Linked DNA regions of Homo sapiens: region 2 is linked to region 1. A link means that fine-mapping ties the variant in region 1 to the expression of a gene that starts in the linked region. Tissue or cell type: sigmoid colon. Region 1 holds a variant in brackets; the other region holds the start of a gene. All regions are shown on one strand. Distances are from middle to middle.

Region 1 (4,246 bases):
AGCTCACTGTTGAATATAAAGAATGACCTAAGGGTGTAGGTGTGTTTGTGTGTGTAAGTATCACCAACAAATTTATTACCTTTTATGGTGAGAATACAGACATTTCTTTTTAAAAAAAAAAAAATCTCTTTTCCAGATTTCTACAAGAAGCATGTATTCCTTTTGTGACTAAAGCCAATATACCTTTTGTACATTTGTTTTTTACAAAAAGAAGCTGGCAATGAAGGGAAGGAGGGCCTAATGGCAGAACTAGAGGAGGACAGTCTCGAGTGTTGTTTTGTTTGTTTTGATTGAAGAACTGAGCATGGTGATAGGATAAGTAGAAATGTCAATGGATAAGGAGAGGCTGAATGTATAGGAAGGAAAAAAAGTAACTGGCAGTGCAGGCTTCCTGAGGAGCTGAAAGACCCAAAGCAGGATATGAAGTTAACTGTCTTTTATTATTATTTATTTATTTATTTATTTTGAGACAGAGTCTCACTCTGTTGCCCAGGCTGGAGTGTAGTGGCATGATCTCGGCTCACTGCAACCTCCACCTCCCAGGTTCAAGTGATCCTCCTGCCTCAGCCCCGCTAGTAGCTGGGATTACAGGTAGGTGCCACCATGCCCGGCTAATTTTTTTATTTTCAGTAGAGACGGGGTTTCACCATGTTGGCCAGGCTGGTCTCGATCTCCTGACCTTAGGTGATCCACGCATCTCGGCCTCCCAAGTGCTGGGATTACAGGCTTGAGCCACCGCGCCCAGCCATGAGGTTAACTTTCAACAGAGAAGGGCACCTCTTTGGCTCTGATCAGAGAAAAAGGAGTCAGGAGTGTGCTTGCTACCTACAGCAATGCCTGGCACTGAAGGAAGGGAGCATCTAAGTGTATAGGAGAAGGAGAGGAAGAGTGAAAGAATTGCTATAGGTTGACTCTCATTTTTTCCACTAAGTAAGGGAGCCACTCCTTAGAAGAGTAGTTTTCAAACTTTTGTCAGAATGCATTATAGGTATCTCTTGTGGATCTGTGTCCTCTAAACTGTGAATTCCCAGAAAGCAGGAGAAACCATATCCTATTGTCTCTGCATCTACCACCCCTCTTCCAGTGACTAATGCAAGGTAGATGCTCAAGAAATGTTTGTTGAATGAATGAAGTGTGATAGGAAATACGAAGAGAGAAGTAAGGGTTTTATATAGCTCAGATGGTATCAAAGGAACCAACCAGTGACAAGTGAACAGATCTGAACAACCTGAGGGTACAGTTGGATTGAGAGCATCCCTCTACTTAAGAGCACTCCAAATAGGAGTGTTTGAAGTTGGAGAAACTAATAATAGTTACAGGTGATCTATTTGGCTTTCTGTCTAAGTTTCCCCACATCCATGAAGGCCCTTTGAATCTATGCTGCACAGGTGTCTTATGGGCACAGATGAAAGGATAGGAACTCACCCAGCACAGCCCAGCCCAGCCACCACAGGAGAGAATGGTCCTCTAGCTCCAAGACTTGGCTTTTCTAATTCTTGGCTTTCCTTTGTTTAACTTGAACCTGTTAAGACTTTTTAGTTTCTTAATAGGTCATGCCTACTTTGCATAGTAAATTGGGTCAAAGACATAGAAAGTATTTTAAACTGTAAATGACAATATGAAAACAAAGAGTTATTGTTTTAAGGGTATTTTACTTATTTGCTACAAGTAAGAAGTGGCTCCAAATTTTTAGATTCCTTGGAACCAGACAAATAGCTTCCTCCAGTTATATTTCAGGGCTCCGAAGAAGCCACTGGCCTAAACATGAAAATCTCACCCAAAGGAGAGGCTTCTATTTTTTTCCCCAAACTGCATTTTTGC[A/G]TTAAGCTTATTAGGATGATGTTATCAAAGATGAATTGTTGAAACATGAGTAGAAGCTGGCATGGATTAACTCTCACAGAATGAACTGTAGAGATGGAAAGGATAGGATCAGGATAATGACTGACACATACAATCAGTTTTTATTCCCGACTTTTTTTCCTCAAAACAGAATTGCATCGATGAAATTGAGACCATAATCAGTGTTAAGCTCCAGCTCATTGGAATTGTCGGTATTGGAATTGCAGGTCTGACGGTGAGAAAGTTCTAGAACTTACCCTTTTTGCCCTCTAAAAAGCCTTGAAACTTTGCATCTTATTTCTTTTCAAGTGTGATAGTATCTTAAGAGAGAATTCTCATAAAGAAAAAAGACCTTTGTTCACAATGTATTACATCTTCTAAGAACAAAGCTCATAAATATATTAATAGTTTGTCCTCTAAAATATAATAGAAATTTCAACTTTAACTCATTATGACCTTGAGTGTGTCATTGTTATTAACTTCCCGTTTTAAGGCTACTATCCATAACCTAGATAAATGATTTTCAGTTCTGGGTCTCTTTCTACTGTTACAAATTCAATGCAACATATCAGGTTAATCTCTCTCACCTACGATTTGAAGAGGCAGCAGAGCATAGAGATTAATAGGGCGAGCTCTGGCATCACATGGTTTGGATTTAACTCTAGGCTCCACCATTTGCAAGCTCTGAGATCGCAGGAAAATTTCTTAATTTTTCTATACCTCAATTTCCTCGTCTGTTAATATATAAACCTTATAGGATTGCCGTGAAAATTAAATGGGATACTACATATACAGTAGTATTACAAATTAATATAAATAAAGTGTCTGGGACATATAACACTCAACAAATGCCAGCTCTCTGCATAATCTACCAGGCAAAGGCAATGGCATAGATGGTATTAAGCGTAGTGCATCCAGACCACCACCAGGTGGCTCTGTACTTCTAAAGTACAAAAGAAGAGTGTGTGGGAAGAATGGATAGCAGCGGACAGGTATGGCAGGAGTTGCGAGAGGTGGTAATGGAGAGAGTATTCGATCTACATCATTGAGATCTTTGTATGCCCCTTTGAAAGGGTGGGCTTCACCCTTAAGGAAAGGGGAGTCACCAAGAGTTGGAAGAACCTGTGGTAGAGGATAGAGGAAAGGTTGGAGGGAGGCAAGATTGGATTTGGAAGGCGGGTTAAAGGATGATTTCCATTGTCCAGGGGTTGGATGATAATAGCTAATGCTAAGATGGCACTTAGTCTCTAGCCCTCTATGTAGATTAATTCATGGCCTAAACTAAGGCAAGGGCTGTGGGAATTGTGAGGAAATCAGTGAATTTGCAGTTATCAGGGGACACACAAGCGCCTTCCCCTTTTCTGTATTTAGAGCACAGAGGGGTGGAGAAGTGGCTGGAAATACTCTGCTGAGGCCCTCCAAATCAAGGGACATTTCTCAGGTCCTCCCCACCTGCTCTGGGGATAGCCTGGCTGCAGTTCTGCAGCTCCCCAAAGGACAGTCCTGAGGCAGGTCTGAGCGTGTGCTGCATAATGGAGAGTTTCACAATCTCAGCAAATGAGCAGCCTAGAAGCATTCACCCCTGACTCGTGTCGGCAGTAGGCTGAGACTGAAGGAGTCTCACTGAAACCAGGATGGGTAGGGATTACATCCAACCTTATGGCAATGATAAAGGGGAAATGCCCATAGTGAGCCTATCTTGAGTCGGCACCCCCAGGTTTCTTCGTTAGTTCTTTTCTCTGTAAAGTGAGAGTTGCACAATGTAATCAGCTAACTAAAAGTGCATTGGGTGTCGCCCGTGCTACACACTGGTACTGAGTCCTGTCATCCAGAAGCTTGAAATCCTGTTCCTGGCCATGCCCTTACCTGCTTCTGCCCCTCCCTTTTCAAAACAACTGATCATTCATATCTTATTGAATTTAGCACTTACAGATCCTAGTCTGACTTAGGATGGAATTGAGGAGAGAACCAGAAAGTTATAGTACCCATTTTTTAAAATAAGCATTGACAGTAGTTTATGGAATGGTGCCCACAGATAGGGTTCCATGGGCTCTACAAAATTGTAGGGGAAATAATAGCGGACAAGAAGACTCTTTGGCATTCTTCTATTCAAACCATGGAAGTGGATATTGATTTCACTCAAGTATTTAACTTCTCAGAGAACTATCCAAAAGGTAAAAGTCAATAATACCATAGTATAAACCCTTTAGTTTATGTTTTGCTAAAACTATTGAATTAAACAGTGAAGCATCGTTTGCCCTTAAAAATGGACTGAGAATGAAGTGATGCTCCACTTTTTTTTTCTTTTTTTGTGAGACAGGGTCTCTGTCACCAGGGAGTGAAGTGGTGCAATCACAGCTCACTGCAGCCTCGACCTCCTGGGCTCAATAATCCTCCCGCCTCAGCT
Region 2 (4,246 bases), 24 kb after region 1:
CTAACCCATTTTAGGAAGACTTAACTTTTAAAGGTTAAAATAACAGGGGTTTTTCTCACAAATTCTTTTAAATGAAATGTTGCATATTCAAACATTCCACGGAAGGTTTGTTTGGTATTTGAGTTAAGGAGCAAAAACATACAAATTCCTTACTCATGGAATCTGGCTTTCTCAAGCGCTTCTCAAATGTGAGCTCCCTCTATGGTACAGAGTTGCTTCCAGTATTTTAGAGATACAGAACTTGATGATCCTCTGTAGGATCTTAAAATTACTAACTGGTAAATTATGTAAAATGCTTACCCATCATGGCCATTATAGTTCTTGCTTGTTTAGACAGCCAGCTACTGAGTTTTTTCTATAGGAAACAACTAACTTCACATATTTTAACTTTTAGCTCTATAATTCTGTATAAAATCAATGTGGTGACCTGGTGATGAAAATATTGGTCTAAAAATTAAGAAACAGAATTCTTCCATAAATCTATGAGAACTTGACTAAAATATATAATCTGTTTGAGTGTTATTTCCCCATCTGCAAAATAGAAAGTGACAAGTACACCTGACCCTTTTTAAAATGTAGGATGAAAATTTGTTTTGGTTTTCCTATTGTCATACTAACTATGGATACTCTATATTTTTTTGAAGTTTCTCCTATAAATGTAGAACTCTAAACTAACAAAAGTAGAAAATGGAAGTGCTGAATTACCAGCCACAGTATCTGTACAACTTTGTGGGCATAAAGAAAGCAAGAACTTTTCTTTTCCTTTACTTCTTTATTGCGAATAGTAAAACTTCACCCACAGAATCTTTCTGGGCCTCAACTTTCTCACCTATAAAAGCAGGGCTTAGAGCCAGAAGATGATCATGAAAATCTTCGCAGCACAAATAGTCTGTAATTCTATATGATAAATTAGTGTCAGATCTGATTGATTGATTAAGAGTTAGTGATCTAAATTCTACTTAAGGATTTAATTGTAATTGTGTGCAACTGAGCAATTTAATATCTTTGTGCCTTCATTTTTCCATATGTCCCTTCCTAAAATCATAAAAAGAATAAAACAATACATGTGAAACACTTGGCTCTCTATATAAGAAAGATCACATAGCTGTATAACACTGTACAAATCCGCGTTAGTTAATCCCTTCCTCTGTGATATGCCACAATTTCTTCCTCATTGTCATCTGGGTTCTCATCTTTGCCACTTAATTGCTTATTCTGAAATCACCATGAATAATTTGTTGGGTACCTAAACATAGAAGGCATGGTTTCAGGCAGGGCCTAAATAATGAGATGCCTTCTTCAGATGCATGGACATATATGTCCCTACTTTGAACGTATTTTCTTATTCCAAGATATGTTCTTTCCTTTGCCTCTTTCCTCTCTTTTTTTCTCTTATTTTTGCTCCCAATGCTTCATTCTTAATAAACACTTTCCTCTCTGCTCTGCTAATTTCCTTCATTAATTTTTACTCTCCAAATCCCTTACTATGAAAAGAACTAATTGCCCATCCTATGAATAATCCTGGAACTTCACTAAAGCAGTATATTTTTCTAGAAAGCAAAATGTACTATACAGCAGCTGTGTGTGTGTTGAACACTATCAAAGGAGGTTTAGCTATTAAATAACTAAAAAGAACTTATAATACAGAGTACATTACCCCAGCAGGTACTCAAAAATGAATTTGCTCTAACATTCCCGGAAGTACATTTTCATAAAAGATGGCCATTAGTACAGTAATTGAGAGGATTTAATACACACATCATTAAATGGACAACAATATTTAAATCAAAATGAAAACAGAAGAAAGCCATGAATATCAAATATCCTTCATTAGGGAACTAATCAGTTGTTTCTCTTTCTTTAAGTCAATGAATTTTTTCCTTATCCTTATGTAGGTAGTTCTCTCACCTCCATCTACTACTAAACAATTTGGAGCAGTAATTTAAGATATTACAGCCTGTTGAAGCAAATTATCTTTCAGCATTTGCCACTTTCTAAAAAATGATAAAATGGTGAAAGTGAAAAAAAATAGCTTAAGAACATATCATTTCACAGAGCCTTCTCACTATAGACACCTACCTTACTTTGCATTGGTGAGCAGATGCTGTGGTGACCCAAACTAAAAGCTCTTGGTTCATTTTATACCCTTCAGGATAATCCCTCTGATCTTCTTGTTTATACAATTGCATTTGATTTACTGCTTTCTTATCTGAAAAGCATCTATTGAAAATTCATACTGAATTCCAAATAAAATGTATTTAGACAAACAAGCTCACAATATCTTTACCTGGAAACTGACATTATTAAAGCATGCATTTTCCTCTCTTCTGTTTCAAAATAAAATTACCTTTTAAATATATTCTTTATTAATATTTATTTATTAATATTAATAAAAGATAGATACAGAATGGGAAAAACCAAATTCAAAAAACACTCTAACATCATCTAAATAAGTCTTGGGAATAAAAATTTATTTGGGGCTTGAGGGCTTCAAGTTTTACCTAAATGTTCATGTAAAGATATATAAAATTATTCCTCATCTAAAAATTTTGTTTAGAACAAAATGTGTAGTTCAAAATATTTTTGGGGGATTTTAAGATATTAAGTAAAATTTACACATGTGAAAGAATGACTCTGAGGAACATGGCCACATCTGACAGGATGTCAAGCTGACCTGAGATAAAATTTTGGCCCTGCCATTTACTTGCCATATGACATTGGCATGCTTGACCTCTTCAGTTTCTATTAAAAGGTAATATCACTTCTCTAATGATTTGTGGTGTGAGCATTTTTTCATATGCTTATTGGCCATGTATATATCTTCTTTTGAAAAGTGTCTGTTTATGTCTTTTGCCCACTTTTTAACGGGGTTCTTCAGTTTTTGCTTATAAATTGTTTAAGCTCCTTATAGATTCTGGATATTAGACCTTTGTCAGATGCATAGTTTGCAAATATTTTCTCCCATTCTGTAGGTTGTGTGTTTATTATGTTGATAGTTTCTTTTCCTGTTACATCAGGTAACAAAAGTACACGATCCTAGAGAGATGGGAAACAAACAGGGAGAAACTGCCTGGAGAAAGTTTCTGGGCCATAATGCAGAAGCCCTTTAGTTAAAGGTCCCATTTGTCAACTTTTGTTCTTGTTGAAACTCCATTTGTCGTCTTCGTCATGAAATCTCTGCCCGGTCCTACATCTGGAATGATATTTCCTAGGTTATCCTCGAGGGTTTTTACAGTTTTAGGTTTTACATGTAAGTCTTTAATCCACGTTGAGTTGATTTTTCTATATGGTGTAGGGAAGGGATCCAGTTTCAGTCTTCTGCATATGGCTAGCCAGTTATCTCAGCACCATTTATTGTACAGGGAATCTTTTCCCCATTGCTTGTTTTTGTCAGTTTAATTGAAAAAAGAATGATTGTCAAATCAGGCAGCCCTCAGAATCAGAAGAGATTCACAGAGCTCTGCTCCTCAATGTGGGCAGACAGCATTTATGGACAGAAAGTAGAAATGAGATATCGAAACAGCTTGATTTCATTATACATCAGCACTTGCCTTACTTGGACAAAGTCTGATCAGCTGGCTGCCTGTAATTGACTGAAGCTCAGCTGCTGTGATGAGCTGAAATTCAGCTGTCTGTTACAAAAGTATACTCCTAAGTTAGGCTTTCAGGTAGTGTACATACTAAGTTAGGTTGCAGTTCATTATGTAGGAACTCACAAAACAGAGGTATCCTCAGGCCACATTTAGTTTAACAGATATATACCTAGAAATGGCCATGCCAGGGTCCAAGGTCTTGGGAATGTGAGCTACTATGTAGTAAGATAATTTTGAAAACAGGGAAACTGGAAATGAGTGTGCCAACCTAATTTCAGACAAGATGCTAACACAGGAATATGATAAATGGAAGAATGTTGGATGTGTGTTTCTAATGGAATTAGTGCCTCCTTTGTATAAAGCATTGATTCAGGAACTCATTTTCTAGCGGATTTATATACCTATCCCTGGGAGATATATGTATGTATGTGTGTGTGTACATATGTAATGGACAACTGATAGACACTTGGCCTGTTACTAAAAGAACTATAATAAATACCATGCATTTGGGTAGTGATTTTCTTGCTAAAGAGGCCTTAGTGTATATGATCTCATACTGTTAAAAGAATCCAGGCATGTTGAATTTGTGCTTCTGATCCAGGTTTACTTTCTCACCTAAAATAATTATAAAACAGTACAAAATATATAAAATA

Direction of the effects. Positions count from the first base shown, and alleles are read on the strand shown. Sizes are in standard deviations (SD) of each study's normalised expression.
For the expression in sigmoid colon of the gene that starts at base 2,114 in region 2, allele A in region 1 goes with a lower level than allele G (small effect, 0.40 SD a copy in GTEx).

The links. PIP is the estimated chance that this variant, and not a neighbour inherited with it, causes the effect. A credible set is the group of variants that fine-mapping cannot tell apart.
Region 2: it holds the start of TSHB, and the variant in region 1 is the best candidate, but not a certain one, in a credible set for the expression of TSHB in sigmoid colon (GTEx, PIP 0.51).

Annotation. Positions count from the first base shown.
Region 1 is chr1:115,051,207-115,055,452 of GRCh38, reverse strand. It overlaps TSPAN2 (tetraspanin 2), which reads left to right. Exons shown (of 8, transcript NM_005725.6): 7 at 1,991-2,074. Among named protein-coding and RNA genes, the nearest start is that of TSHB, 24 kb to the right of the region's middle. The variant A/G (reference allele first, on the strand shown) is at 1,822.
Region 2 is chr1:115,027,694-115,031,939 of GRCh38, reverse strand. It overlaps TSHB (thyroid stimulating hormone subunit beta), which reads right to left and starts at 2,114. Exons shown (of 3, transcript NM_000549.5): 1 at 2,080-2,114.